3 separate regions of the Homo sapiens genome follow, and all the other regions are linked to region 1. The links come from fine-mapping of genetic effects on gene expression. A gene starts in region 1. Each other region holds a variant in brackets. All regions are shown on one strand. Distances are from middle to middle. Region 1 holds the start of GPRIN1 (G protein regulated inducer of neurite outgrowth 1). Region 2 overlaps CDHR2 (cadherin related family member 2). Region 3 overlaps TSPAN17 (tetraspanin 17).

Evidence for each region. PIP is the estimated chance that this variant, and not a neighbour inherited with it, causes the effect.
Region 2: its variant is the best candidate, but not a certain one, in a credible set for the expression of GPRIN1 in lung (TOPMed, PIP 0.61).
Region 3: its variant is the best candidate, but not a certain one, in a credible set for the expression of GPRIN1 in sun-exposed skin (GTEx, PIP 0.57).

The regions. Positions count from the first base shown.
Region 1 is chr5:176,602,494-176,612,195 of GRCh38, forward strand. It overlaps GPRIN1 (G protein regulated inducer of neurite outgrowth 1), which reads right to left and starts at 7,663. Exons shown (of 2, transcript NM_052899.3): 1 at 7,506-7,663. RefSeq lists silencers at 7,244-7,303, 7,364-7,993, 8,895-9,189.
Region 2 is chr5:176,557,659-176,568,128 of GRCh38, forward strand. CDHR2 (cadherin related family member 2) reads left to right here. Exons shown (of 32, transcript NM_017675.6): 2 at 7,680-7,746; 3 at 8,014-8,085. The coding sequence starts at 7,695. Among named protein-coding and RNA genes, the nearest start is that of CDHR2, 14 kb to the left of the region's middle. RefSeq lists an enhancer at 8,458-9,423. The variant C/G (reference allele first, on the strand shown) is at 5,521.
Region 3 is chr5:176,649,827-176,658,049 of GRCh38, forward strand. It overlaps TSPAN17 (tetraspanin 17), which reads left to right. Exons shown (of 9, transcript NM_130465.5): 2 at 1,790-1,840; 3 at 1,928-2,074; 4 at 2,917-3,087; 5 at 5,069-5,194; 6 at 6,252-6,299; 7 at 6,874-6,990; 8 at 7,069-7,130; 9 at 7,692-8,223. The coding sequence ends at 7,872. Among named protein-coding and RNA genes, the nearest start is that of TSPAN17, 6.5 kb to the left of the region's middle. RefSeq lists an enhancer at 1-1,703. The variant C/T (reference allele first, on the strand shown) is at 5,554.

The DNA.
Region 1 (9,702 bases):
GTTCCATGAATGACTGAATGACCTAAGATGCAGAGCCACCTGTGCCCTCCTTGGCTCAAAACCCTCCTCATTCTTGCCGGAAATGTAAATTAGTTGTAATCTTTTTAGAAGGACATTTATCAATTTCTATCAAAGTTTACAACGCGCATAGCATTTGAGCCACCAAGCCCACCTCTAAGCATGGTCCTAAAGATAGACCTGGGGTCCTGAAGATGGTCCTGGGGTACACAAGGGCATGGCTAGTGATGAGAACAAGACGGGGAGGCAGGTTCTGTGAACTGTGGGACAACCACGCAGAGCACCGGGCAGCTACTAGAAGGTGTGGGGTAATGAGGGAAAGCACCCAAGATAAATTAATTGAAAAAGGCCAGGGGACAGCATCGCTACTGGGATCCCACGCGTGTAGCCAAGGAAAAGGACACACATGGATGGGTTTATTTATAAAGAGAATTTCTGGATGGAATCCTATAAAACTTTTAGCAGTGACTGCCTCTCAGAAGGAAGAGCGGGGATCTGAGGGTGGGAGAAGCTTTTCTTTGTGCGCCCCTTTGTGATGTTTAAATTGTGGTTATGTGCGCACATAGTCCTTTTTTTTTCCAATGGACAATAAAGAGAAACCTTTAATGACTCACTCTTACCTTTGGGGTAAAGTCCAGCTCTTTAATATGCTCCTAAGCCCCTATGTTTCTACTTAAGTGCTGGGATTTATCTTTCATTACCCACTCCCACCCCCAAAACATGTACACACACAGATACACACTCTCTCTCTCCCCCACCATCTCAGCCTCTACACACCCTCTTCTGGAGGAATCTCTCCCTCCCTTCTTGCCTGGCTGTCTCTTATTACACCTTCAGATCTCCGTTAAAACACCTCCTCCTCTAGTGGGCCTTGTTTGGCTACCAGCTTCCTGGGGATTCCTGTAGCCTCTCGTTCCTCCTCTAACAAGGCTCATGTCACTCTGCATCTGGCCATTTACACCTCTGGGTCCCTGGCCAGACCTCAGGTCTCTGGATGGGGACACAGTCGATACTGTTCACTACTGGGTCCCTCAGGCTCTGGCTTATGAGGTGGGGGAGGGGGACCATCACTAAGAGGGAACACAGGAAGAGGAACAGTTTTGCAGAGGATCATGGGGCACTGGGTTTCGGAAGTGGAACTGGAGTGCCCATGGGACTTATGGGGGGTGACATCCAGGAGGCAGTAGGAAGCAGGCCAGAAGCACGGGAGAGGTCTGGTTGGAATTCGTGGGATCACTGGATGGTCACCAGCCTGCAGGGGTCAGGCAGGCATCAGATTTGAGTGGCGTGAATTGAGTCCATCTTCATCTTTGGCCTTTTGATAGTGATATGGGCACAAATATTTGTTTTCTCCTACAAGGGAGATGATGAAAGACTCCTGACATCCCCAGACTGAGGGAGACAAGAGGGAGTGGTGGGGACTGTGGCAAACTAGAGGGCACTGGCCCCTTCTAAAGGGGCAACGGCACTCAATTCCTGCCAGCTGTGGCCAATTAGGAATCATTCCATTAACTCAGCATTTACTGAGCACACAGGCAATGTTCTAGGCATTATTCTTGGGACTGGGGATACAGCAGTGAATAAGAAATGTGGGGTCCCTGCCTTATAGATGCAGAAAGATTGGGAGGAGAGAAATAAACAAGTGGCAAATAAATCATAGTATTTCAAATAATGGATGCTGTGAAGACAAAGGAGTGGGCAGCTGGTTTAGACATGTGGTCAAGAAAGGCCCCTCTGAGGCAGTTACCATCTGAGCCAGCCATGAAGAGCTGGAGTGGAGTCGGAAAGGGGGTGGCAGCGGAAGAGGAGGCAGCAAATCACATGAGGCATGGTGGAGGAGGGGGGTTTAGCCTAAGGGCACTGGAAACCCTGGAAGTATTTTCTTTTTATTTGAGACAATGTCTCACTCTGTTGCCCAGGCTGGAGTGCAGTGGCGCGATCTCGGCTCACTGCAGCCTTGACCTCCTGGGCTCAAGTGATCCTCCCACCCCAGCCTCTCAATGTAATAGGATTATACCTTGATCTCTTGAGGCCAAGAGTTCCAGACCAGCATGGGCAACATAGCAGGATCTCGTGTCTACAATAGGATTATACCTAGCGCCTAGTGAGCCACTGTATCCCGCCCCTTGGAAGTATTTAAGCAGGGAAGTGAATGTGGCCGCTGTGCCTCCAGGTTTCCTAAATTTTTTTTTAGCTAAGTCATAAATCTGGATATCTGTATTTTATTTATTTATTTATTGAGACAGAGTTTTGCTCTTGTTGTCCAGGCTGGAGTGCAATGGTGCTATCTTGGCTCATTGCAACCTCTGCCTCCCAGGTTCAAGTGATTCTCCTGCCTCAGCCTCCCAAGTAGCTGGGATTACAGGCATGCGCCACCATGCCCAGCTAATTTTGTATTTTTAGTAGGGACAGGGTTTCTCCATGTTGGTCAGGCTGGTCTCGAACTCCTGACCTCAGGTGATTTGCCTACCTTGGCCTCCCAAAGTGCTGGGATTACAGACATGAGCTACCGCGCCCAGCATGGATATCCATGTTTTAAATATTGGCTAATTTAAAAAATATCATACAGGCTAAACAAAACACTTTTTTTTTTTTTTTTTGAGACAGAGTCTTACTCTGTCACCCAGGCTGGAGTGCAGTGGTACAATCTCAGCTCACTGCAACCTCTGCCTCCCGGGTTCAAGCAATTCTCGTACCTCAGCCACCCGAGTAGCTGGGGCTACAGGCGCACATCACCATGCCCAGCTAATTTTTTAAATTTTTACTAGAGACAGAGTTTCACCGTGTTGGCCAGGGTGGTCTCGAACTTCTGGCCTCAAGTGACTGGCTGCCTTGGCCTCCCAAAGTGCTGCGATTACAGGCATGGTCCACCATGCCCGGCCAAAACACTTTCATGAGCCAACTTTGACCCCTAGGTCACCAGCTTGCAACCTCTGATCCATCTGGCCCTTGGCCTATGGAAAAGGACGTTATAAGCCAGGGTGACCGGGAAGATGGTCAAGGGAAAGGGCCCTGGGGCGGAGTTCCGCGGCTGTAATCCCAGTGCTTTGGGAAGTCAAGGTGGGATGACTGCTTGAGGCCAGGAGTTCCAGATCAGCATGGGCAACACGGCAAGATCCCGTCTCTACAAAAACTTTAAATTAAAATTAAAAAAAAAAAAGAAATTAGCCAGGTGTGGTGGCATGTACTTATAGTCCTGCCTGCTCCAGAGGCTGAGGCAGGAGGATCTCTTGAGTCCAGGAGTTTGAGGCTGCAGTGAGCTATGATCAGCCTGGGTAACAGAACAAGAAACTGTCTTTAAAACAGAGACAGGGAGAGAGAGAAAGGGCCCAGGCTCCAGTGAGGGCCAGGATCTGCCTACCATGCCTGCCTGTTTCCTTCTCTGGAAAACAGGAATTCAACAGCTGCCTGGCTGGTGTACAGGGAGTTTAGCTGGAGCTGGAAGGAGTCAGCAAAGGATATAGGAAGGGTGCTCTGGGCCCTCACTACCCCTCATTTCAGCCCTGGAAGCCCAGCCCTGGGGTCCTCACACACCAGCCCAGCCAATAAGCTCCTCTCCCTGGGTGCAGCCCGGGCAGAAAGTCAGGCCAGCCCACCGCTTATCAGCTCTGTGACTTCAAGCAACGCCCTTCTCCTCCTTGGGGACCCTGAAGAACCCACCTCCTGCTCCCCCAGGGCTATAGTGAGAATTAAAGAAAATGAGGGGTGTGCCTGACTCTGCTCACTTTAGGGCTGGGCTGTGTCTGTGGAAGGCCTGTTTTTATCTGCTCAGCCTGTCAGAGCCCAGCTGTGCTCCCAGGAGGGGGCAGGGGAGGAAAGGGTCTGCAGCAGGGACACAAACCAGCAAAACCTGACCCTCAGACAGGCTTGTTTGACCCACAGAGCTAAACACATTTTAAAATCAGTTTTAAAAAGGAATTAACCGATCAACTTCTAAACATTAGAAGATTTCATGTGACAGTAAGATTTCCAGCTTCTCTTGGAAAACTAAAATTTGGCAGTCTGAGCGTGCTTCCTGCCTGGCAACATTCAGCTGGAGCCCCAAAGGGACAGCCTCCTTAGATGGGGGTGTACTCTCCAATCAGCCACAATCCCCCCTCTTCCCCACGGTGTCCTAGACACTGAGGCTGACTGTCTGCTGCCATCAATCATGGAATTCTCACTGTCGTTTTTCTCACAGCCGGCCCTTCATGTATGTTACCCTCCTGGCCTGTAGCCACCTGAGTGTGGACCCTGGAGCACAATGCCATGAAAGGCAGAGGTGACCTTGTACAAGTCGAGCCCTTACTATGTGCAAATCCCACCCGCCTGCCAGGCAGCTGTTGTAGTCCTGTTTTCCAGAGGAAGAAACAGGTTCTAAGAGGCAAGCTTGGCTCAGCTGATAACATGCCCCTTCTGAAAGTCCCCAGGCTTCCCGTCCCCAACTTGTATTTTCCAGCCTCTGAGATGGGATAAAGTCCAGGGTAGGGACAGAGAGCCTGGTCAGGGAGGTAGAAAGATGTGGGGTCAAGCCCCAGCTTAGTCATTGACATCCTCTATGACTCTGAGTGAGTTTTTCTACTCCGTGGGTCTCAGTTTTCCAATCTGTGAAATGGGAGAGGGGATGTAGTTACATCTGGAAGAGATAGGCCAGCCCTGGGTTTCAGAACTGCCCCAAGACCACTCCCAGAGGCTCTACTGCTCACAGTTCTGCTGGGCCCTTCCTGGATCTTGGGGAGGCCTGAGGATCCTCGAGCTGCTTCTCTGAGAGGCAGCCCAGGCCTGAGGCCCCACATTCTCTCCCCGCAACTACCCCACTAGAACCCAGCTCCATTACCTGGGCCCAGCACGCTCACTGTCTTTCTTTTTTTGAGACCGAGTCTTGTTTTGTTGCCTAGGCCGGAGTGCAGTGGCATGATCTCGGCTCACTGCAATCTCCACCTTCCAGGTTCAAGTGATTCTCCTGCCTCAGCCTCCCGAGTAGCTGGGATTACAGGCATGTGCCACGACACCTGGCTAATTTTTGTATTTTTTGTAGAGACAGGGTTTCACCATGTTGTTTAGGCTGGTCTTGAACTCCTGGCCTCAAGTGATCCACCCACCTCGGCCTCTCAAAGTGTTGGGATTACAGGCATGAGCCACTGCACCCGGTCTCAGTCTCTTTTTATCATCTGGATCCCACAACAATCTCATGAGGGGGGCATTATCATCCCATTTCACAGATGAGGCCACTGAAGTCAGAGGGAGAAGACTTGACCAAGGGCACACAACTGGGGCACACAACTGGGGCACACAACTTGGTCAAGACTTGACCAAGGGCACACAACTGAGGGAAGGCTGTAGCTCAAAGCCAGTTGTGCCCAAGCACAAAACCTGAGTTCTTTCTAAGATCGTGGACACTGACACTTGGCTCTTTTTTTTTTTTTTTTTTTTTTTTTTTTTTTTTTTTTCTGAAGACAGGGTCTCACTCTGTTACCCAGGCTAGAGTGCAGTGACACAATCATACCTCCCTGTAGCCTCCAACTCCTCAGCTCAAGCAATCTTCCCTCATCAGACTCCTAAGTAGCTATAGGCATGCGCCATCACACCCAGCTAATCTTTAAATTTTTGTAGAGATGGGGGTCTTGGTATGTTGCCCAAGCTTGTCTCAAATTCCTGGCCTCAAGCAATCCTCCTGCCTGGGCTTCTCAAAGTATTGGGATTACAGGTATGAGCCACTGCACCTGGCCTGACACTTGGTTCTCAAAACCCCCTTTCTGGTTTTTGAGGTCAGGCCAAGGTTCCTCCCAAGCAACAGTGCCAAGGAGCATGCAGTAGAAGAAGCAAGAGCTCCCCTCCCCCTGCATACATTCCCCCACCTGTGGGAACGCACACACCCTATGAGCAGATGAGCCTGTACACTTGGGCACAAACAGGTTGAGTGTGGCCTGACTGAGGCAGAAGGCAGAAATGTCTGCTAGGTATGTAGGCGGGCTCACCTGGCATGCAAAGGAGTGAACAGACTGCTTGTGGATGTATGTACCAGCTTGGGCCACTCTGGGGCCAGGACCTGGCTCCTGTGTTCTGCTCAAGAAGAGCTTGTTGTGCGTATGTACACCCTGCATGTGCAGAATGGCCTGTGTGTTTGTGCCTCGTGGGGGCTACTTGGACCCTGTGGGTATCTCACTCCTAGGAGAGCTTATCTGGGTGTTGCACAGGTGCCTGTGTCCTGCTCCCAGGGAGAGCAGCAGCCCCTGTGGCTGCCCATTCAGGCCACAGAGACCTGGCCAGCCATTCCTTTCCCTCTAGGATTTCTTTCCAGCATGGAGCTATCCTTACACCCATAAACAGGGCCAGAACTGCCAAGCACCTGCAAATACCTCTTCTGTGCTGACAAGACCAACAAAGGCTTGAGGGACTTCGTCAGGCATCTGAGTGTGTCTGAGAATCTCAGTCTGCTGCCCCTCGTCCCCTTCTCTCGTAGTGCCCTCAGAGCAGCGAAGTCTCCTGCTCGGGGGTGTGGGGGGAGAAGGAATCTAAAGGTGTTAGCCAGACCTGCTTCCAGAAACGGCCCTCAGACCATGCATACATACATACATAGGAGGGCAAGAATGGACGTTCATGGACGTGCAAACGTGGGCCAGTGTGGGTGGGAGTGGGCAGCACGCTAAGAGACAGAGTGTGTGTGTAAGAGGGAGTGTGTGCACAAGGGTGGCAGTCTACTCCAGGGTATCTGGGTACGCAAGGGACCCCATGAGCAGGGGTGAGCAGGCCAGGGCAGGGTGGCCCCGAGTGTGTTGTGATCAGGGAGTATTGTTGAGTTGATGTCCATGCTGTGATCCGCGATGGCTGGTTTGAGTGCGTAGCTGTGCCTGGGTGTGTACGCAAGGCTCCCACCCAGTACCCTGGGTGACAGGTGGCCGTGTGTATGAGTCTAATGGAATGACCAACAGCCATTGTGTGTGTGCGGTAGACCTGTGGCCTCACTCGAGGAAATGAGGCGCCCGTGCGTGAACGCGGTGTTGTGTGATCGCGCCCCGGAGTGTGTGCCACACTGGTTGTGTGACGGCGAGTGTGCTCAGTAGTGCGAGTGGAGCCAGTGGAGCGTTGAGCTCGCTCCGGGGAAGATGAATCAACGCGGGAGGACGCCCTCCCCCCAGTGGCGGGAAGCACCCCCTCCCGCGCGGCCATGCCGAACAAAGCCAGCGGGCGGCGGCAAGGCCGGGCGCGGGGCCGACCCCACAGCCAGGTCAGCCTGGCCCGCCGGGCCCCTCTGATGTTCGGCCCAGGGCTGCGGGACCCGCCCCCGCCCCGCCCCGCCCCGCCCCGCCCCGGCGAGGAGCCTGGAAACAGACACCCACCGCCCCCAGCCGCGCGCACACACCCGGGCTCATGCCGCGCGAGGTGTCCGAGCCCCGCCGCCGGGGGGCTTCGAGGACCCTGGACAGCGGCTCCGGGGCGGCAGCGAGCGGATGAAGGGGCTGCCGCCGCCCGCCCGGAAAGACAGCGGGTGTGGGCGCGGCGCTTACCAGGCAGTGCCGCTGCTCCGGCTCCTGGGCGAGATGCGCTCCGGCTCCCGCCGCCGCCGCCGCCGCCGCCCGAGCGGCCTCGGCTGCCTCCGGCCGGGCTGGCGGGAGGACCCGCAGACTCGGCGCCGCCGTCCCCAGCGCCGGCTCCGCGCTCCCGCCCCGCGCCCCGCCCCGGGCATGCGCAGTAGCCGCCCGGCCGCCTCGGAACCGCGAGGGGGCGGTGACCGCGGGGAAACCGCGGCCGGAGGGAGCGAGGGAGGGGCGCCCCTCGCTGGCCAACCCTAACTGCGGCCGCTGGGCTCCCGGGTTCCGCGCCGTCCTCGAGCGGGTTCCCACTTCACAGACAGGGAGACTGAGGGCCGGAGAGGCTGCCCCTTTGCTGCGAGCTTGCTGAGGGCGGGGCGCGCCGTCTAGCAGATCTTAGACCAGCCCCTCGAAAGCCCTCGCCTGGCTTGACCAAGGAGGGAACTGGGGCTCAGAGGGGGCAGTCGCCGGCCTGAGGACTCGAGGCGCCTGGATGGGGACCCAGGTCGGCGCGATCTCCCGGCTCCGCCAGCGAGGAAATTTCCCGCCTCCGCCCCCCCCACCCCCGGCCGCACTTCCGGCCTCCTCTTCCCCGCCCCCGGCCCTTTGTCTCGCCGCTGCCCACGCTCCAGCGAGTGGCGGGGACGCCGGAGGTAGTGGTGCGGGAGAGATGCCTTCCAGTCCCTGGCTGCGGCCTCCCCGGGGGCCCGCCCGCCCTCCCCCCTCCCCCTGGATACCCTCGAGCAAATCATTTCACCTCTCTGCACTTCAGTTTCTCGATCTGTAAAACGGGACTAACATTATGCACCTCACGGTGGTCTTGGAAGGGCAAAGTAGGTGTTCAGGGGTTTCCAGTGGTATCTGAATCACCAAGGACACAGAGACTCGCTGCCCACCCCCTCCACATTTCCCTGCAGAGAAGGAGTTCCCTTCCCCTTGACTTCCCAGAGGAGAAAAAATAATTCCGTAATTGCTCTAGATGTGACAAAACCCTCTCGCACCGGTACTATGAAGCCACCACCATCTATTAATCAATGGTAACAACCATTGGCAATGATGCTTATGTAGGGCCAGACACGGCGCTAAGATTCTGTTTACAGGTTTTATCTAATTTCAATTTCCAATCGCTTAGGAGCAAGTTAATATTAATGTATTATATCTCCATTTTTCAGATAAGAAAAGAGAAGCAGATAAGTAACTTGTTTGTGGTCACACATCTAGTTAGTAGTGGAGCTGGGATTACAAACCCATGCAGTCTAACTTTGAAACCTCACTTCTTATTCTTACATTTTACTCCCCTCTCTTACTTGGTGAACCGTAAGTCACCGTGATCCTTTAAAATATATATATATATATATATATATATATATATATATATATATATATATATATATATATATTTAAAATTCTAGGTGATAAATGAAGAAAATCCGTGGGACTGGCGTCTCCAGGCAGCACGCCAGGCAAGGAGAAAACCTCAGCGTGTCGGACCGGTTTCAGAACCACGGACAGCACCACACCAGGGCTGCTTCCTCACATTTCCGGTCCTGAAAATTGCTCATTCACTGCCCACAAGGCCATTTCGCTTCAGAGCTTACAAACCCTTATTCCACATTCATCATTTCATTTTTTTCTCCCTACAGCCCTTCAAAGTAAACATTACTGGCTCCATGACACAGATGAAATTAAGGCTTGGAGAAGTTCACAGATGTGAAAAGTGGCAAGAACCAACCTGTGATCGAAAAAGGTCCCCCTGGGACAGGACAAGGGTGGACAGGAGCAGAGACTAGGCAGGAGTGAGGAGGCTATGGCAGGTGTTCAGGTGAGCGATGATGATGCCTGAACCACGGCGGCATTTGTAGGGATGGAGAGGAAGAGTCAGATTGGATACCTATCTAGGGGTAAAATCAATAGGCCTTGACCATGAGGTGGATGTGGGTGGAGGGGAGAGAGAACTCTGCTGTCTCTCTGAGATTCTGCCTTGGGGAGCCAGGTGGATGAAGGACAGATAATTTATGAGCTCTGGGGGGAAAGAGGGGTTTATAGGATGGCCGTGCTGATACATTTGAGTCCAGAACTGAGTTCTGCCGTGGCCAAAGCTGAAGGCAGACAAGGGAGCCCATCCACCTCCAGCTGGTGCCGGAGGTCATGGGAGGGGTGTCGGCACATGGGA
Region 2 (10,470 bases), 44 kb before region 1:
GGGCTAAGTCATTATCTGTTGATTTTTTTTTCTTTCTTTCTTTCTTTCTTTCTTTTTTTTTTATTTTGAAATGGAGTCTTGCTCTGTTGCCCAGGCTAGAGTGTAGTGGTGCGATCTTGGCTCACTGCAACATCTGCCTTCCAGGTTCAAGCGATTTTCCTGCCTCAGCCTCTCAAATAGCTGGGGTTACAGGAGCCCGCCACCATGCCCGGCTAATATTTGTATTTTTAGTAGACACAGGGTTTTGCCATGTTAGCCAGGCTGGTCTCAAACTCCAGACCGCGTGATCCACCCGCCTTGGCCTCCCAAAGTGCTGGGATTGCAGGTGTGAGCCACCGAGCCTGGCCTATCTGTTAATTTCTTAAAGTGAAAGATGAGGATTTTATTATCTTACAGCCCATCACGCTTCCCCAGCGCGCATGGTAAGGTTGTAGTCCATCGACCATGGGAACGGGACCCCCTGAGCCACTGGCGTATGATGTTCCTGGGCTCCTTCTAGTACAGCTTTCCTTTCCTGCATGGTCACTGGTTTTGCTTGCTTAGTTTTCTTTTCTTATTTTTTTTTTTTTTTTTTTGAGACGGAGTCTCACTCTGTCGCCCAGGCTGGAGTGCAGTGGCGCCATCTCGGCTCACTGCAAGCTCCGTCTCCCGGGTTCACACCATTCTCCTGCCTCAGCCTCCCTAGTAGCTGGGACTACAGGCGCCCGCCACCATGCCCAGCTAATTTTTTTTTTTTTTTTTTGAGATGGAGTTTCCCTCTTGTCGCCCAGGCTGGAGTGCGATGGTGCGATTTCGGCCCACTGCAACCTCCGCCTCCCAGGTTCAAGCAATTCTCCTGCCTCAGCCTCCCAGGTAGCTGGGATTACAGGCATGTGCCACCACGCCCAGCTAATTTTTTCTGTTTTTAGTAGAGACGGGGTTTCTCCATGTTGGTCAGGCTGGTCTCAAACTCCTGACCTCAGGCGATCCACCCACCTCAGCCTCCCAAAGTGCTGGGATTACAGGCGTGAGCCACCGCGCCTGGCTAATTTTTTGTATTTTTTAATGGAGATAGGGTTTCACCGTGTTAGCCAGGATGGTCTCGATCTCCTGACCTTGTGATCCGCCCACCTCGGCCTCCCAAAGTGCTGGGATTACGGGCGTGAGCCACCGCGCCCGGTTGCTTGCTTAGTTTTCTACATGGTATCATAAGTTCATCCCTTCACCCTAGCCAGAGGTGTAAATCTCATTTCCTGATTCTATAGGATAAGAGTTTGGATAGGGCATAGCAGGAATTGCTCAACTCTGTTCCATGGTGTCTGGGGCCTCAGCTGGGATTATGTAAAAGATTAGCGGTTGGACAGTGGGGACTGGCTAGACATCTTGCTCTCCCTCAACGCACAGGCCTCTTAACGTGGTTAGCTTGGGCTTCCTTATAACATGGCGGCCTCAGGGTAGTTGAACTTCTAACAAAGTATCTCCAGGTTCCTAGAGCAAAGTGGCCCAAGAGGCCCAGGTGTAAGCTGCAGAGCTTCTGAATGCTGCATTTCTGCCACGTTCTGTTGATCAAGCAAGTCACTAAGGCCAGCTCAGATTCAAGAGGAGGAATTAGACTTCCCTTCTCAATAGAAGGAATATCAAATAATTTGTGACACCATTAATCTCCCACACATAGCTCCATTAACTCCAGGATTGTTACCGAAAAGCCCCATAACCTTCTGATTCTGGGTCCTTTGTATGTCACTTGTTTTTCTCTGCAGAGGATTTCAGGGTCTTGTCTTTATCCCTAATACTCTCAAAATGCTTTGGCTTGGGTTTTCTTTTCCTTTCTTTCTAAAATTTGTTCTTGGAATTCTTTCAGTCTGGAAATGTGTTATTCACTTATACAAAATCTATTGTTTGTACTCATTTGATAGTTTCCTTTCCCTGTTTTCCTTCTCTGTTTCTCTTTCTGGGACTTCTATTAATCAGACATTGGACCTCCTGGATTAATCCTCTAATTTCTTATTTTTCTCTCCTAGTTTCCATTTCTCAACTTTATATTCTGATTCCTCCATTAAATTTTTAATTCCTGCATTTTTTTTAAAATCTATAACAGTGGCTGTCAACTAGGGGTGATCTTACCACCACTCTCCCTCCCCCATCAGGAGACATCTGGCCCCTCCCCCATCAGGAGACACCTGGCAATGTCTGGAGACATTTTTGGCTGTTGCAACTTGGGGGTTGCTACTGGCATCTAGTGGGTAGAGGACAGAGGTGTTTAACAGCGAGGAAATATCGGCTTCGTATGTGAGAATTAGATAAAGGGTGGTTGAGGCGTGGCTTTGGATTGGTTGGTTTGCATAGGAGAGGCAGGTCTGAAGGCAAGGCGCTTGCTGTCTCTGGGAATTAGCCAGCCCTAGGAGGGAAGTCTCTCCCTAACCAGCAAGGCCCCAAAGATGTCAAAGCATCATAAAACACAGAAAATAAAAACAAATGGCTGGGCGCAGTGGCTCACGCCTGTAATCCCAGCAATTTGGGAGACCGAGGCGGGCAGATTGCCTGAGGTCAGGAGTTCGAGACCAGCCTGGCCAACATGGTGAAACCCCGTCTCTACTAAAAATACAAAAATTAGCCAGGCGTGGTGGCGCACCCTGTAATCCCAGCTACTCGGGAGGCTGAGGCAGGAGAATCACTTGAACCCAGGGGGTGGAGGTTGCAGTGAGCCAAGATCGCACTACTGCACTCCAGCCTGGGCGACAGGAGTAAAACTCTGTCTCAATAAATAAATTAAAAAAAAAAAAAGACGCCAAAAAAGAATGATTAATACACCAGATTCAAGGGGAGCAGACATAGTCCTCATCTCTTGCAGGAAGGAGTGTCAAAAGATCTGTGGTCATGTTTGTCTGCCATACCACTTAAAGCGGTTCCCTTCTTTCACTCTCATCACGCCCACATCCCCCTCCTCCACAGCAGGGATGCAGTGCACTATTAGGTGGTACTTTGCGTACTCGTCTGTAGTCTGTCTCATTCAGAACCTGCACTGTTTTGCTCACCATTGCCTTCCCATTGCTGGGAGCAGGGTCTGGCAGATAGCGGCTCATGGATACCCAGTAACTATTTACTGAGGGAATGAATGAGCGAATCAGGGTACTCGGCACATATTAGGTGCTCAGGAAACGCCAGCAGCTATTTAAGATTGTCAGCCTTCCTGATGTTCCATGTTTCCCCAGCAGGTCTGTGGGGAGCATGGCGAGATGAATCTGAATTAAAAGAGGGAATGCTGTGCTGGGGCTTCAGGGCGGGGTGCTGACCATGCCCGGGAAGCACGTAGCCAGATCAGAACCAGGATCTCTGACTGTCTAGGGCACACTGGGGGAGGAGGGCCTGCAGCTAGCCAGTGCTGGCCAGGGCAGAGTTCTCCGGAAGAGAGGAACCAGGAATGGGAACTCCAACAATGAGAAGGGCAAGAGACAGACCGTCCTTTTCCTGCAATAATAACTTCTCACATTTATTATGTACTTACTGTGAGCTAGGCACTGTTTAAGCCTCAACACAAACCCCTGGTGTAGGTGCTGTTATTATTCCCATCTTACAGGTGAGGAAGCTGAGGCCCAGAGAGGGTATGTTACTTGCCCAAGGTTATGCTGGATTTGGACCCAGGCTCTCAGGTCCACATACCACATTACACTCTGCTCTATCTCATGGGTGTTCTGGATAAGCCACCTGGGGTTGCAGTGACTCACTGGCTCATCCATTCATTCCTTTCAGAAATACTCACTGAGCCTACACTGGGCTCAGCCCTGTGCTTGGTCCTGGGGTCACAAAGGTGCATCAGACGCAGACCTTGCCCTCACATCTCTTCTGGCCTGGTGGGAGAGGCTCATCTGCAAAGAGATAACAGAGGTTACTCTCAGGTGTATGCAGCATCCTGTGAGGTCACCATGGATGGGCGGAGGAGGCAGTTTCTCCTGTGGGAGCATTGAGGGCGTGTCTGGACAGAAGGGGATCCTGGAGTTGGGTTCTTTTTTTTTTTTTTTTGAGGTGGAGTCTCGCTCTGTCACCCAGGCTGGAGTACAGTGGCATGATCTCGACTCATTGCAACCTCCACCTCCCGGGTTCGAGCGATTCTCCTGCCTCAGTCTCCTGAGTAGCTGGGACTACAGGCATGTGCCACCTCGCCCGGCTAATTTTTGTATTTTTAGTAGAGATGGGGTTTCACCATGTTGGCCAGGCTGCTCTCAAACTCCCGACATCAAGTGATCCACCTGCCTTGGCCTCCCAAAGTGCTGGGATTACAGGCATGAGCCACCGCACCCAGCCTTGGAGCTGGCTTTTAAAAATGAAGAGAGTGCATCAGCCAGCAAGGCGGGGAAGAGCATTCCAAAAAGAGGGACGGGCAGTAGTGAGAGCAGGCAGAGGGAGTCTGTGGGCGTGCGGGAGATGAGGGGTGGGCTGAGATGCAGGGAGTGGTTCGAGGTGAAGCTGGAGTGGTCGAGGGTAGTCTTTGGGAAGCCCTTTTATGGAGTCTGGACTCTAGCAATGGGGAGCCATCGAAGGGTTTTGAGTGAGGGCGGAAAAGATTAGATTATGTGCAGAAGGACTAGTTTGGTTGAGTGGGATGGATTAGAGAGGCTGGAGGAAGGGAGGCCTTGAGGAGGCTGAGGACAGTGTCCCCAGGGAGGGCGGCCAGTATGGGATGGAGAGATGCAGGCTGATTAGAGAGAAACAGAGGAGGCTGCACGGATTGGACGTGGGCGTTCAGGAGAAGGAGGTGTCAGAATGGCGTGGGCAGGTGGGTGGCTCCCCGAGGCTGGAACTCGGGAGGAGGGGTGGGCAGTGTGAGGGAGAGTTCTGGTTTTTGATGCTGTTTCATCATCAGGGCTCGGCTCTGGAAGCCATCCTCTACCCCCACTCCTCCCCAGGGCTGCGTGCTTACTTCAGATGCTCTGGGGCAGGAGGGAAAGGGACATGAAGAGGTGCCCAGGACCAGGTGAGGGTGCTTGGTAGTGTTAACTTTTTTAAAAACACAAAATATAAATCTAGAAAAAGAGAGGGGACCATGTGCAGGTGGCCATCCCTCCGGCCAAGACCAGAGACAGACACTTCGAAATGGGGTTTGGGGCAGGAGCTTGGTGCTGGACAGTGTGGCTACACATACATATTCAACAGGTTACAGGAGGAGCTATGCATATTCATAAAGGAGCTCCTGACACATGCATGTTGAACACACGTGCATGCAACATATGATCCACGCTCACTTGGGGTGGCAACTTAACATGTAAATGTATTACAATTACGCCCTATACATCAAAAGGCCTTTTTGTGACATGGAAGGTGCATGAGTAAGCAATCTCTGAATGAGCTGGAGCCGGTCTGTGGTTGGTGGGCTCTTATCAGGAGAAAGTTACTGAAATCAGTCTCTTGTCCAGTCAAGGCTGTGGTTATGGGCTGGGCGCAGTGGCTCACACCTGTAATCCCAGCACTTTGGGAGGCCGAGGCAGGCAGATCACTTGAGGTCAGGAGTTCAAGACCAGCCTGGCCAACACGGTGAAACCCCGT[C/G]TCCACTAAAAATACAAAAATTAGCCCAGTGTGGTGGTGGGTGCCTGTAATCCCAGCTACTCGGGAGGCTGAGGCAGGAGAATCACTTGAACAATGGAGGCAGAGGTTGCAGTGAGCCGAGATGGCACCACTGCACTCCAGCCTGGGTGACAGAGTGAGACTCTGTCTCAAAACCAAACAAACAAAAAAGGCTGCGGTTATGGCTGGTGGAACAGGGGCTCAGTTCGTCAGCAGCTGTGAACTGGATGAGCTGTAATTGCTTTAATTTGGCTTTTCTCGAGGCCAGTGCTTATTTAGCTGCTAGAGAAAAAGAAAAAAAAAACCCTCATGGCAGTTAGAACAGAGTTTCTTCTGTAGGGCTGCCTGGCTTCACCCTGGCCTGGCATGGCCTCAGGTCCTGTTTATAATTTGGCATCTTATTGCCACGGAATGTCTATTCTTTCAGTCCTGCGAACTCTATTTTAACATTAACGCTGGTCGGTTATTGTGTGTCGCCTGTAAAAGAGAAGGGTATAATGAGGCATGATTGACCTCCCATCCCGCCATGGCTGGAAACTAAGTTTTGAAAGTTTTTCTGGGGTCTCCTGGGCCACAAGTGGGGCCGTTTAGTCAGTGGGAGGCATAGGATTTTATTTTTAGTTTACAGTAGCAAATGTGTTCCTTTGTTTGCTTTCAAGCTTGTTTAATTCATTTTTGGAAAAGTTAACATATTCAATCAGCACAAAAGAGTATACAGTAAAAAACTGGGCACAGTGGCACACGTCTGTAATCCCAGCTACTCAGGAGTTCAAGCCCAGAAGTTCAAGGCCAGCCTGGGCAACATAGTGAAACACTGTCTCAAAAGAAAAAAGTATACAGTAAAAAGCCCTGTCTTACAGAAAGATTATAGAGTAGCACAGTGAACATAGAGCATACAGACAACTTTCTAGACAGACAGCAAGAAACAAAACGTGTGGGGGCCCATCCTGCTCTCCTGCTTTCTGTGGAGTGACACATCAGTTGTCTTTGGGGATTCTTTTTTTTTTGAGACGGAGTCTCACTCTGTCTCCCAGGCTGGAATGCGATGGCGTGATCTCATCTCACTGCAACTTCCGCCTCCCGGATTCAAGCAATTCTCCTGCCTCAGACTCCCGAGTAGCTGGGATTACAGGCACCCACCACCATGCCCGGCTAACGTTTTTTGTATTTTGTTAGAGACAGGGTTTCACCATGTTGGTCGGGCTGGTCTTGAACTCCTGACCTCAGGTGATCCGCCCGCCTCGGCCTCCCGAAGTGCTGGGATTACAGGCGTGAGCCACCACGCCCAGCCTTGTCTTTGGGCATTGAAAGGGCCTTGATGTTTCAGGTCTCTCTGTGACAGTGAATCAAAGTCCCCCTTTTCTCCTTTTCCCTAACAAGGGACGGCTTGCAACATAAGATGATCAAAAAGACTGGCCCAGCAGGGTTTTCTAAGGTCTCTGTCTGGCTATCAATCAACAAGAGGATCCCAGAGTATGCAGCCCTCCCTAGACCCACCTGACTGGGGAACCCTTCTGCTGTGGCGCATCTCAGAGGGCCAGGGTTCCACGGAGCACAGTTTGGGAAAGGCTGCAAAGACAGCCACTAGATGTATCAGCAGGTGAACGAAGGACCCTGCCCACCCATAGTCTCTGGATGGTCCTGGACAAATTATGGTCCCTCTCCAGGGTCTTGATTGTGAAGGATACTATTAGTTTGAACACTTCTAACAGGCAGGTATAGATGGTGCAGTGGTTGAGAGAATGAACTCTGGACTCCAAAAGACCTGTGTTCCAAGCATGGTCTTGTCATTGACTCCCCGTGGCCTCAGGCAAGCCCCTTCGTATCTTGGTGCCTTAGCAGCCACCTCACAGTTGTGGGAATAACACAGCTGCACATCTAGTGCCTTGGAGCATTTCCTGGTGCATGGCAGGTCCTGGATTCAGGTTCAGACATCGTGGTCACCCCTACCCCACCTGGCCTCCCCCTTGGTTCCCCTGACCCTAGAGCATCTGGAAAATGGACAGAGGGTGATAGAGGCCCTGGGGGAGAACTACTAAGCAGCAGTGGTGGGTGGGCTCAGGTCAGACCCAGGCAGATGGGAGTCTGCCAAAAGGAGGGAGGCCTGAGTCCAGGAGCCATTCCCTGACCTCTTCCCTTAGGTCCCTGCGGATGTGATGGCCCAGCTATGGCTGTCCTGCTTCCTCCTTCCTGCCCTCGTGGTGTCTGGTAGGTGTCTCCCCTCCCCAGCCACGCAGCCCTAACCTAGAGACCCTTGGCAGGACCCTCCAGAAAGGAGGGGGATCCCTCATCAGCAAACACCAGCTCCTATGGGCCAGCCCTGTGCTTGGCTAAGCTGGGGAGGCCTGGGGAGGAATCCAGGCCTGGACGGGTGGCCTGGGTGGCCATAAGGACTAGTGTGTGCTCCCAGGGGAGCAGGTAGGGATCGGGTTTTGCAGGGGTGTCCCGATGTTCCAGCACACTGTGTCCCTACAGTGGCAGCCAACGTGGCCCCGAAGTTCCTAGCCAACATGACGTCAGTGATCCTGCCTGAGGACCTGCCTGTGGGTGAGTCCCGGTCCCTGTGTCTGCCCCATGTCAGGTCCTGACCCACAGGAAAGTCCTGGGGTGCCCTCTGGAGCCCCCACCATGCCTGCAACTCCATGGCTTATTGTGGGACAAAGAGGGACTGAAGGGAGCTCCTTTGATTCCAGAAGTTTGTTTTCTTCTCTTCAGCTTCTGGGTCAAGAGCAGTGTCCTCAAAGGTGTGAGACGCACCTCCAGGGGCCCTCACACCAGCGCCAAATCATCCGGCCTCCCCCATTGCCCATCGCTTTCAGTCTCTGACTGGAGGATCCCCTTGGGCCACGCTTCCTCCTCCTTCCTCACACTGGCTAATCTCTCCCACTCCCACGCTGGCTTTTTTTTTTTTTAAAGGGAGAGCAGGTGTCAGGCTCAGACCCTTTCACAGAAGCTAATGACTCACTTTGCTTTGTTTTTATTTGTAAAGTTACTTTCTGTCTATGGCAGGTGAGATGGGTTTTGAGATGTAAAGTTTGCTTTTAAAGTAAATGTCTTTACATGAGATGGAAAGTCAATTTAAGGAATGAGCACCAGGAACAGAACACAGACATAGCAATGGTCACGGCAAAAGTCACAGCAAAGGTCATGGCAGCGGTGCAGGAACGAATGAAGTTTGGGAAACATTATTTTGGAAGGAGCCAGGGGGCCTAGATACCACATTCCCAGAAGGCAGGATATAGATCGGGGAAGTAGAAACCATAGGTGGCCGGGTTGGTTGGGACCCCAAATAACAGAGATGCAAACAAGGCGGAGGTGAATTACCGCCCCTCGTGGCCGCCCAGGAGCCCGGACGGAGCTGTGGGGGCATGTCCCATCAGGCTGCCCTCCCTGCAGGGCTTGAGGGGGCGGGGGTCACGCAGCCTTCTTCCCGCTCAGTGGCCCGACTTCCCTAAGGCACAGGTCCCACCCACATGGGCCAGGATGGCTCAGACGAGAAACCATTCCAGTCACAGAAGGAGGAAGGGGACAAGAGGGCTTCTTCCTTTCTGGATTTTACACACATTGCTTCTGCTTTTGTCTCTTTGGCCAAAACTAAGCCACAGACCCACGCCTAGCTGCAAGGGAACCTGGCAAATGTGGCCTTCATTCTGGTTGGCCGTGTGCCTAGCTCAAAATCTGGGGCTCCATTGTTCTCAGAAAAGGGGGACAAGTGGATATTGGGGGACAAGCCACAGCCTTTGTTGCAGTGCAAAATGGAATCCAGGAATGTCGAAAGCTGCCAGATGAAACAAGAGACACCAAGGGGTATTGACAAATACAAAACCTGTGCAAGCAATCCCCTGATCAAGAGAAAGTATTTCCATCACCCCAGAAAGTTCCCTGTGTCCAGTTCTAGTCAATCTCTGCTCCCTAAAGGCAAGTGCTATTCTCATGTCTATCCCATGGAGGCTGGAGAGGGAGGAGTGCACAGGACTTTTTTTTTTTTTTGAGACAGGGTCTGGCTCTGTCCCCCAGGCTGGAGTGTAGTGGTGCGATCATGCTCACTTCAGCCTCGACCTCCTGGGCTCAACTGATCCTCCCACCTCAGCCTCCCAGGTGGCTGGGACTACAGGCATGTGCCACCATGCCTAGCTAATATTTTATTTTTTAAAGTAGAGACAGGGTTTTGCTACATTGCTGAGGCTGGTCTCAAACTCCTGGGCTCAAGCAGTTCTCCCATCTCGGCTTCCCAAAGTGCTGGGATTACAGGCATGAGCCACTGTGCACCACTACACCTGGCTAATTTTTTATTTTTATATTTATTTATTTTTGAGATGGAGTCTCGCTCTGTCACCCAGGCTGGAGTGCAGTGGTGCGATCTCAGCTCACTGCAACCTTCACCTCCCGGGTTCAAGCAATTCTCCTGCCTCAGCCTCCCCAGTAGCTGGGATTATAGGCACGTGCCACCAGGCCTGGTTAATTTTTTGTATTTTTAGTAGAGACGGGGTTTCACCATGTCGGCCAAGCTGGTTTCGAGCTCCTGATCTCAAGTGATCCGCCCACCTCCACCTCTCAAAGTGCTGGGATTACAGGCATGAGCCACCTCGCCTGGCCTAATTTTTAAATTTTTTTGTATAGATGGGGGTCTCGCTATGTGCCTAGGCAGCTCTCAAATTCCTAGGCTCAAGCCATCCCCCATCTCAGCCTCCCGGAGTGCGGGGATTACAGATGTAAACCACCATACCTGGCCTTCTGCTTTTAAAAGAAATGCAACTTTCTTGTGGGCCACGAAAGTATCAGGGGACGTAGGCTCCCATGCCAGTGGCTGAAGCCCTCAGAGCCCTGTGGCGGAGCTCCAGGGAAACGCATCTTCATGAAAAGAAGAAAGTCCTTGCTAATGAATATCGGGGCCAGTGGAGGTGTCGGAGCAGAGGCTGGATGGGTAAAGGA
Region 3 (8,223 bases), 47 kb after region 1:
TGGTCTTGTGTCAGGGCCTCTGCCTGTGCCCTACCCTCCTCCTGGAACAGGCTTTTCCCTCTTGCTCTTTTCATCATTCAAACCTCAGCTGAAATGCCCCCACCCTCCCTTCTGCCCTCTCTAAAGCTGGCGTCCAACCCCAGCATCCCCCATCTCGTCGCCCCGCTCGATATTTGTTAAGGGGTCTGTTTGCATCTGAGGTTTCCTTGTCTGCTCACTGACTGTCCATCTCCCCTGCTGGAGTGTAAGCTCCGTGAGGGTCGAGTCCGTCCTATTCACCAGCGAATCCCCGGCATGGCGGCGATCAGTGCCGGTGGGTCGTGGAGGTGTTTGCTGCAGGCGGGTGGACGTAGGGGTGTGGGACCAGCATGAGGTCTGGGTGGGGATCGGGAGATGCCAGCGTCATGATGGGATGGAAGACGAGCGTGAGGAGGAAGAACGGCAGAAGGCTGAGGCTGGAGGCCGTGGGACCAGCCACAGGTGGTCCCTCCAGGAACACAGCCCTCCAGGAACTCCTGCTGGAGGCTGAGAGCTCACTTCCCAGCTGTTTTCCCAAAGTGCTTTAATTGTATTTCCTTGGCTCTGATTGGCTGCCTCTGGACCAATCCCCGGGGCAGGTGAAGGCGGAGCATCCTGGGAAGGAGCTCGGGGAGGAATGGGGTTGAGTTAACTGAGGTGGGGTTCAGGAAGGAGAAAGTGGCACTCAGTCCCCTGTCTGAAGGCCAAGGGCAGGCCAAGTGGGAGGAGGCAGGAGAAGTGATGTTTGGTTTCACATCAGCAGACCCAGCAGGCAGGAGGGAAGGGAAGATGTTTCCAGAGAAAGAATAGAGCAGTGTGGGGAGCCCACGGTCAGGGAAGGGAAGGTGATAAAGGCCTTGGCCGTGGCTATGTGCTGAGGGGAAGGAGCCTGCAGATAAAGCAGGTGGGTGGGGAGGTCGCAGGAGGTGGGGTCATGGCCCTGGGCTTGGGTACGACAGCCTTTCCCCCTCTGAGACTGCACGCCCAGGGACCTGCCCAGGGTCAGGTGTGAGAGTGACCAGCCTGGACATCCAGGGCTCTTCCCAGTAGGGAATTGAGGCAGGAAGGTGGGAAAGCTGAGGATGGAGGAGAGGCACTTGGACTGCCCCGGTGGGGAGTCTAGCTGGTGTTCTGAAGGCCCAGGCAGAGCTGTGGCCATGGGGCAAAGCCACTGGCACAGGCCAGATCCTAGGTGGATCCTGCTAGGGATGATTGAGATTCCTGTCATTCAGGGGTGTCTGGTCGTGAGCCGTGGAAGCTGACTCTGGCAGGCGGAGGTTAAAGGGGTAGGATGGGGCTGGGCTGGGGAGGAGTGTTGAGGGCGGGGCCGCAGTCACACGGCTTTAGGGTAGCAGGAGAGCTGGACTTGGCAGGGTGCAGAAAGGAGGCTAGGAGCCTGGAACCCCAGCACCAGCTTCGGTCAGGTGTAGAGGCTCAGTATACTGGCGCCGTCGCTACCCCCGCTGACACAGCTGCTATTGCTCCTTGGCAGGAGTGTCTTGGCCACCGTCTGCTCCAATTTGGAGTTCCAGGAAGGGGCCCCTGATGTCCATCCCAAGGCTAGCAGAGGGTTCAGTCCTCCAGGCTGTGTCCTGTGGGGAAGAAGCACTGGGATGTGTTCTTGGGAAGATGGAAAGGACCCCGGATCCCGTTCACAGCCCTTGTGCCTCTTCCTCTCTCCGCTGGAAAGGCCCTGGCTACCGGGGAAGGATGAGGGGGGAGGGTCCTGGGGCTGCTCCCAGCCCTGAGCTCTTTGTTGCTGCCCTTGCAGGTGCTGGGAGCCCTGTTCCTGGCTATCGGCCTCTGGGCCTGGGGTGAGAAGGTAAGGCAGCGGGCGGGCGTGGAGCTGGTATGGGACGAGGTGGTGGGAAGGTCAGCTCCCCACACCTGCCTCTGCTGCCCGGCACAGGGCGTTCTCTCGAACATCTCAGCGCTGACAGATCTGGGAGGCCTTGACCCCGTGTGGCTGTTTGTGGTAGTTGGAGGCGTCATGTCGGTGCTGGGCTTTGCTGGCTGCATTGGGGCCCTCCGGGAGAACACCTTCCTGCTCAAGTTTGTGAGTGCTGCCCTCAAGATCCCCTGGGAACCCCCATCTCCTCCCATCCAGTTCTTGCAATACAGTTGGAGCTTAATGATGGGTAGCTTTATTATTATGCTATAATCGTCATCGTTAGATTCATGTTGTCTATATTTACTAGGATCCTTTCCGTGGTATGGTAAGTGACCGAGACCTGGTGGCCCAAGCATAAAATATTTATTGACTCAAATAAGAAAAGTCCAGGGTTGTGCTGGCTGCCGGTGCATTTTGATCCAGGGGCTGCCACAGTTTCACTTGGCCTGGTTTCTCCCTGTTTCTCGGGCTCCCCCCGTTTGGCTCCATTCCCAGGTGGCAGGAGGCTCAGGAACAGAGCCGGCTTCCCCATGCCCTCCCAGGAACTCCTGCTGGAGGCTGAGAGCTCTCTTCCCAACCGTTTTCCCAAAGTGCTTTAATTGCGTTTCCTTGGCTCTGATTGGCTGCCTCTGGACCAATCCCTGGAGGCCGAGGGAGGCAGTGCTCTGATTGGTGGGCTTTAGGCACTTGCCAGTCCTGTATCTGGGACTGGTGGGTTTGGGGAGGTGTCTCCATCCGAACCTTGGAAACTAAAGGTTTGCATGGAGGATGGTTTTTCAGAGACAGCAGGGTGTGATTACCAGACAAAGGGAATTGGATGGGTAGGTAACAACAGATGCCTATTACCATCATATAACAATACTAAAATAATAGAAGGTGGGGGCTCTGGGCGCCTCTGGGTCTTGGTGGAGGTAGGGATGGAGCCCTTCCCTGTGGCACACCCAAGCCCTGGGAGGTCACCAGAGCCCTGCGTTTCCAACCCCTACTGTCTGTATGCCCAACCCCAGTTCTCCGTGTTCCTCGGTCTCATCTTCTTCCTGGAGCTGGCAACAGGGATCCTGGCCTTTGTCTTCAAGGACTGGATTCGAGACCAGCTCAACCTCTTCATCAACAACAACGTCAAGGCCTACCGGGACGACATTGACCTCCAGAACCTCATTGACTTTGCTCAGGAATACGTGAGTCCAGTGTCCAGCCTGGGACACCTGTAGGAGGCGCCTTCCTGGCAGACGAATGAGGGAGCAAGTTCCCTGTGATGGGACCATCTCCTTACCCACCTGGGCTAGCGGGCCCCAGGAGAGAGACCCAGGAGTGTCCTCGTCCGAGGAGAGCCAGCCCCTGCTGATCCTTATGGGTCCCCATTTGCCTAGTGCCATAGGGCCACGGCCTTGGGAAACAGAGGGCATGGGCTCCACGCTAGCAGCTCCCAGGCCAGGGCCTACGACACACGGGAGAATGGAGGAAATGTGACATAAAATATAGATTTCTACTTCTGCTAAACCTTGGGCCCACGGTATTGGCTGCAGCTATGTTGCTGCTGCCCCTTCACTGGTACAGAGGCTCTCTGTTTGCCATTGTTCCCAACACTCTGTATTTTATTATATCTGTCAGCCCTTATCTCTCATTTATACTATGTTTGGCCTCTGTGTATATTAGAGTTTAGACCCCTGATGGAAGGTCTGCCCTCAAACTTACAAACTTAACCCCAGTGAAGAGCAGCCAGAGAAGAGTTCCTGAAACCCTATCTGCCTCCCACCTGCACCATCTCGCCCACTCACCCCTAACCACAAACACACAGTCACACACTGTCACCCACAGTCACAACCACACCTAGTCACACACTCGCAGGCACACTTGATCACACCTACACCTACACATGGTCCCACAGTCACACATGAGTCACACCCGATCACACCCACACACGGCGACAGGCCCTTGGCACCATTCACCACCAAGAGTCAGCTCTGGATCCAGAGGTGAAGCAGAGCTGGTGCCTGCTTCAAGCAGCTCTCAACCCAGGGCAGAGGCAGACATAGCCAGGCAGTTATGATGCAGTTCATTCATTCATTCAGCACAGGATTGTTAAGGGCCTACCATATGCCGGACCCAGAGCCAGGCCCTGAGGATTCGGCGGGGAAGAAAGCTGGGACCTGTCCTCTCAGGGCTGGCAGTCGGGAAGAGACAGATGGTGAACAAGCAGAACAAACAAATGTGTGCATGTACATACGTGTGTATGCAAAATTGTACATTGTGGTAAGAGTCAAAATGAAGGGTGGAGAATGGGAAGGCCTCTGCGTGGAGAGCTTGAAGCCTCCCAAAGGAGGAGAAGGAAGAGAAGGGAGAGTGTTCTGTAGCAGGAGCAGCTGGCGCTGAGCAGGTGCCAGGAGGCAGGTGGAGGCTGAGCCCTGCCCTGGGACCAGCACATGCAGGGCATGTGGCAGGCCTGACTCCTCCAGCTCTCTGGCTCGGCCACGGGGCCTGCCTGTGTCTGCTGCCGAGCTTGAGCTCCCCCAGCCCTGTGGGCTGCTCTCCAGCCCCTGCGCTGCTGCTCAGTGAGGGCTGTGTGCACCCGTGTGCCCCACAAGACCATGGTTCATGGCAGATCCCAAACTCGCCATTGCTCCTGCCTAGGGGACAGCTTAGGGTGTTCTGGGTGGGGGTGATGGGGTGTGGGATGATGCCAGCCGGCATGGAGGAAATGGGGTGGCACGGCTATGGGGGTGGCAGGATTCCCCTCCTGTCCCTGCACTGAAGAGAGGAGGGCTTTGTAGAACCTCTGGGGCAAGTGTGGGAGGCCTGCTGCAGACATGGGGCCCAGCGGTCTCTGCTGCCACAGGGCTTGGCCCAGCGCCTGCCTCTCAGGTAGTCTGGAGGAAGCCACAGTCATTGAACCAGTATCCTTGTCCCACTCCCTCCCTTTTTCTAGCCTCTCTTGGGTCGGGGAAGGGGGAGCTCAGTGTCCCCTCCCTTGCACCCCTCTGCCTCCACCAGCCTGGAGGTTGGGCCCAGGCCTGTGGGGGTGGGGAGGTGGCCACCCACTTGGCTGTCCCAGCCCTGTCCCAGACAGCCCTGTATTCCTGCAGCCTGGGCTTGTTCCCAAACAGGGTGAGGCTCCTGGGATGGGCCTGGCTCACCTGGGGCTCTCCCCTGCCCCCACAGTGGTCTTGCTGCGGAGCCCGAGGCCCCAATGACTGGAACCTCAATATCTACTTCAACTGCACTGACTTGAACCCCAGCCGGGAGCGCTGCGGGGTGCCCTTCTCCTGCTGCGTCAGGGACCCTGCGGTGAGTGGGGCTGGGGGAGGAGAGGTAAGGGACTTTCCAGTGCACAGACTCTGGAGAAACCTCCCACAGGGCCCCGCTCCGCTCTGCCCTGCTCTGGGGGCGTGGATGCTGGGGGACGTCATTTTACATGGGTGGCACTGAGGCCTGTTGGGGCGCGGCTGCTTTCCCTGTTCAGCAAGACCTGTCTTTTTTATCGTAGTGAGATGGAAACAGCAGGACCCTGGGGCACAGGGATGGGGACTGGCCTGGAGGCCTCCCTGCACCCTATACCTCTACATAAACACAGCCGCAGCCATTGTCTGCTCCTGGCCAGCTTGAAGGTTGGCCAGGCTGTCACTCTCAGTTATGGTTGTATGTGA[C/T]GGGGGTTGCCTGGGTCATTGCCAGCCAGCACCCCACTGGGCCACCGTTGCAGGGTAGCAGGGAGTGGGGACCTCTGTCCCTTTACGACTTTCTTCAGGGCAGAAACCTCTCCTGATGATGTTTCTTCAGTCATAGTCCATCTGGGATGCCAAGGACCAGGTTTCTCCCCATTCTTATAACACACCAGCAGGCAGGATTCCTGAACGGAGGCAGGTCCAGGTTGGCGATTGCAGCCACGCATTCCAGCGTCTGGGAAAGAGGCACGTGGGGCCAGGTGTGGTGGCTCATGGGAGGATCATTTGAGTCCAAGAGTTTGAGACCAGCTGGGGCGGCACAGTGAGACCTCGTGTCTACAAAAAAAAAAAAAAAAATTAGACGGGCATGGTGGTACACTCCTGTGGTCCTAGCTACTTGCGAGGCTGAGGTGGGAGGATCACTTGAGGCCAGGAGGTCGAAGCTGCAGTGAGCTATGATCGTGCCACTGCACTCCAGCCTGGGCAATGGAGTGAGACCCTGTCTCAAAAAAAAAACAAAAGCACATGGGCCTCAGAGAGGCTCACTTAAGACTGGTGGACACGGCAGAATCCACGGGCCCATCTGCGTCCTCTGAGAAGGAAAAGCCACCGCACTGCCCAGGTACCATGGACCCCATGGGATGCGTCCTCACCAAGTCACTAACTGGCCTGTCTCCCCTCAGGAGGATGTCCTCAACACCCAGTGTGGCTACGACGTCCGGCTCAAACTGGTGAGAGGGGTAGGAACCGGGCTGGGGCAGGCAGGCAGGGGTACTGGGTTGGGTATGAGAGTGTCTATAACCTCCTCTGGAAGGCCTCAGGGATTCTTTGGGGAGAGGGTGCTGAGTCCCAGGAACCAGCCAGACACCCAGGCAGCGGAGGGGGAGTAGACCCCTGGGCCTGGGCAGATGTGGGTTTGCTCAGTTCTGCTCTGTGGAGCACCCTTGGGGTGCCCGGCTTTGCCCTAGAGGCCAGAGATTTGGTGCTCATGAGACAGTCGGCTCTGGAGGAGTGGAGGGAGAAAGACGGTAAGCCCTTAGAGAAAGCAATATGAACAGCCATGTGACAGTCTCAGCTGAGAGCTTGGAAGAAAATAAGGGAGGTGATAGGAGAGAAGCTGGGCAGGCAGGAGGGGGCGTGCATCTGTGCTGAGACCCCATGAGAAGGAGCCGGCTTTGTGGAGGGACTGTGGGGAGCAGGTACTGCAGGTTTAGACCCTGGGGTGGGCGTGAGCTTGGCAGGCTGGGAGGGTGGGAGCCGGCCTGAAGGGCAGGTAGGCTGAGCCTGGTGCCTGCGTGTCCCCAGGAGCTGGAGCAGCAGGGCTTCATCCACACCAAAGGCTGCGTGGGCCAGTTTGAGAAGTGGCTGCAGGACAACCTGATTGTGGTGGCGGGAGTCTTCATGGGCATCGCCCTCCTCCAGGTACCCTTGTGGCCCCACGTGCCCCTCCCCTTGCCGGGGCCGCCCTCACTCTCCCCTCACCTGTCCTCTGTCTTACAGATCTTTGGCATCTGCCTGGCCCAGAACCTCGTGAGTGACATCAAGGCAGTGAAAGCCAACTGGTGAGGCCGCCAGAGGCCATGGCCACATGCCTGGCCTACGCAGGCCTCTGGGGGGCCCCCCAGGACCCTCCTACTATACTCCTGACGGGCAAGGCTGCAGGAGATGTTCCTGCTGGGACTGAGCCTTGAGGGGTTCGCCTGAACCGCTGTGCTGTCCACCCACGGAGGAAGTTGCTGTGCCTCCGCCTGGGCCTCTTGTCCCATATGCGTGTGTACACACACATGCAGGCACACGTGTGCACAGGGAGCCACCGTCTCGGCTACATTTGGGGTGGTGGACTCTCCAGGGGACTAGGAAGGGCGCAGCTCAGAGGGTGCAGGCCAAGTGGGGTGGGAGGTGCTGTGTGGAGGGTCCCCCCCGTTCCCTGCCCCCCAGTGCTGGGACGCACCTTTCTGTGCGTAGCTGTATGGGGCGCGTTGCCTGAGCCACTGCCTCACACAGCTTCAGAGCACTCTTTTCTATGAGCTGTAACTTTGAGCCTGCCAGGAACCCACCTCAGCCTCAGTGTCCCAGACTCTGAAATGGGTCCAAGAATTTTCTTTCTCTTGCTTGCCTCTCAGGAGCAAATGGAATGATGACTTTGAAAACCACTGGCTTACGCCCACCATTTCCGAGGTCCTGTCCACGGCGGGGCCTCAGCAGAACTCTCTGACTGGGGCCCCTGGCCCGGCCCCACCCAGCCGACATGTTTTCTTTGGCCTGGGTGGTTTATACCCTGAGCCAACCTTTAAAAATTGGTAGATTTCACATAAAAGTCCAGATCCACAGCTTCTCTTGAAGAATGACCACCTGGCTACGCCGGCTCTTCGGTGGCAACACTACCTGGGACACTGCCTCCCCAGTCACCAAGGGCCCCAGCTGGCCCGTTCTACTCACCTAAGTGCCGCCTGACCCTTGTACACTAGGAGCTGGCCTCCCACCTCTGCAGGGTTATTCCCTGCACCTCGAGGCCGCTGCGGGCCAATCTGGAGTGAAACACGGGGACCTGAAGGATGGAGAGGCTGGACCCCGCTTTGAAGAGGGTGCAGCCTGGGAAGGGCGGCCTTGCTGGGGACTGCGGTGGGAGTAGAGTGCCCAGGAGAGGGTCTGAGG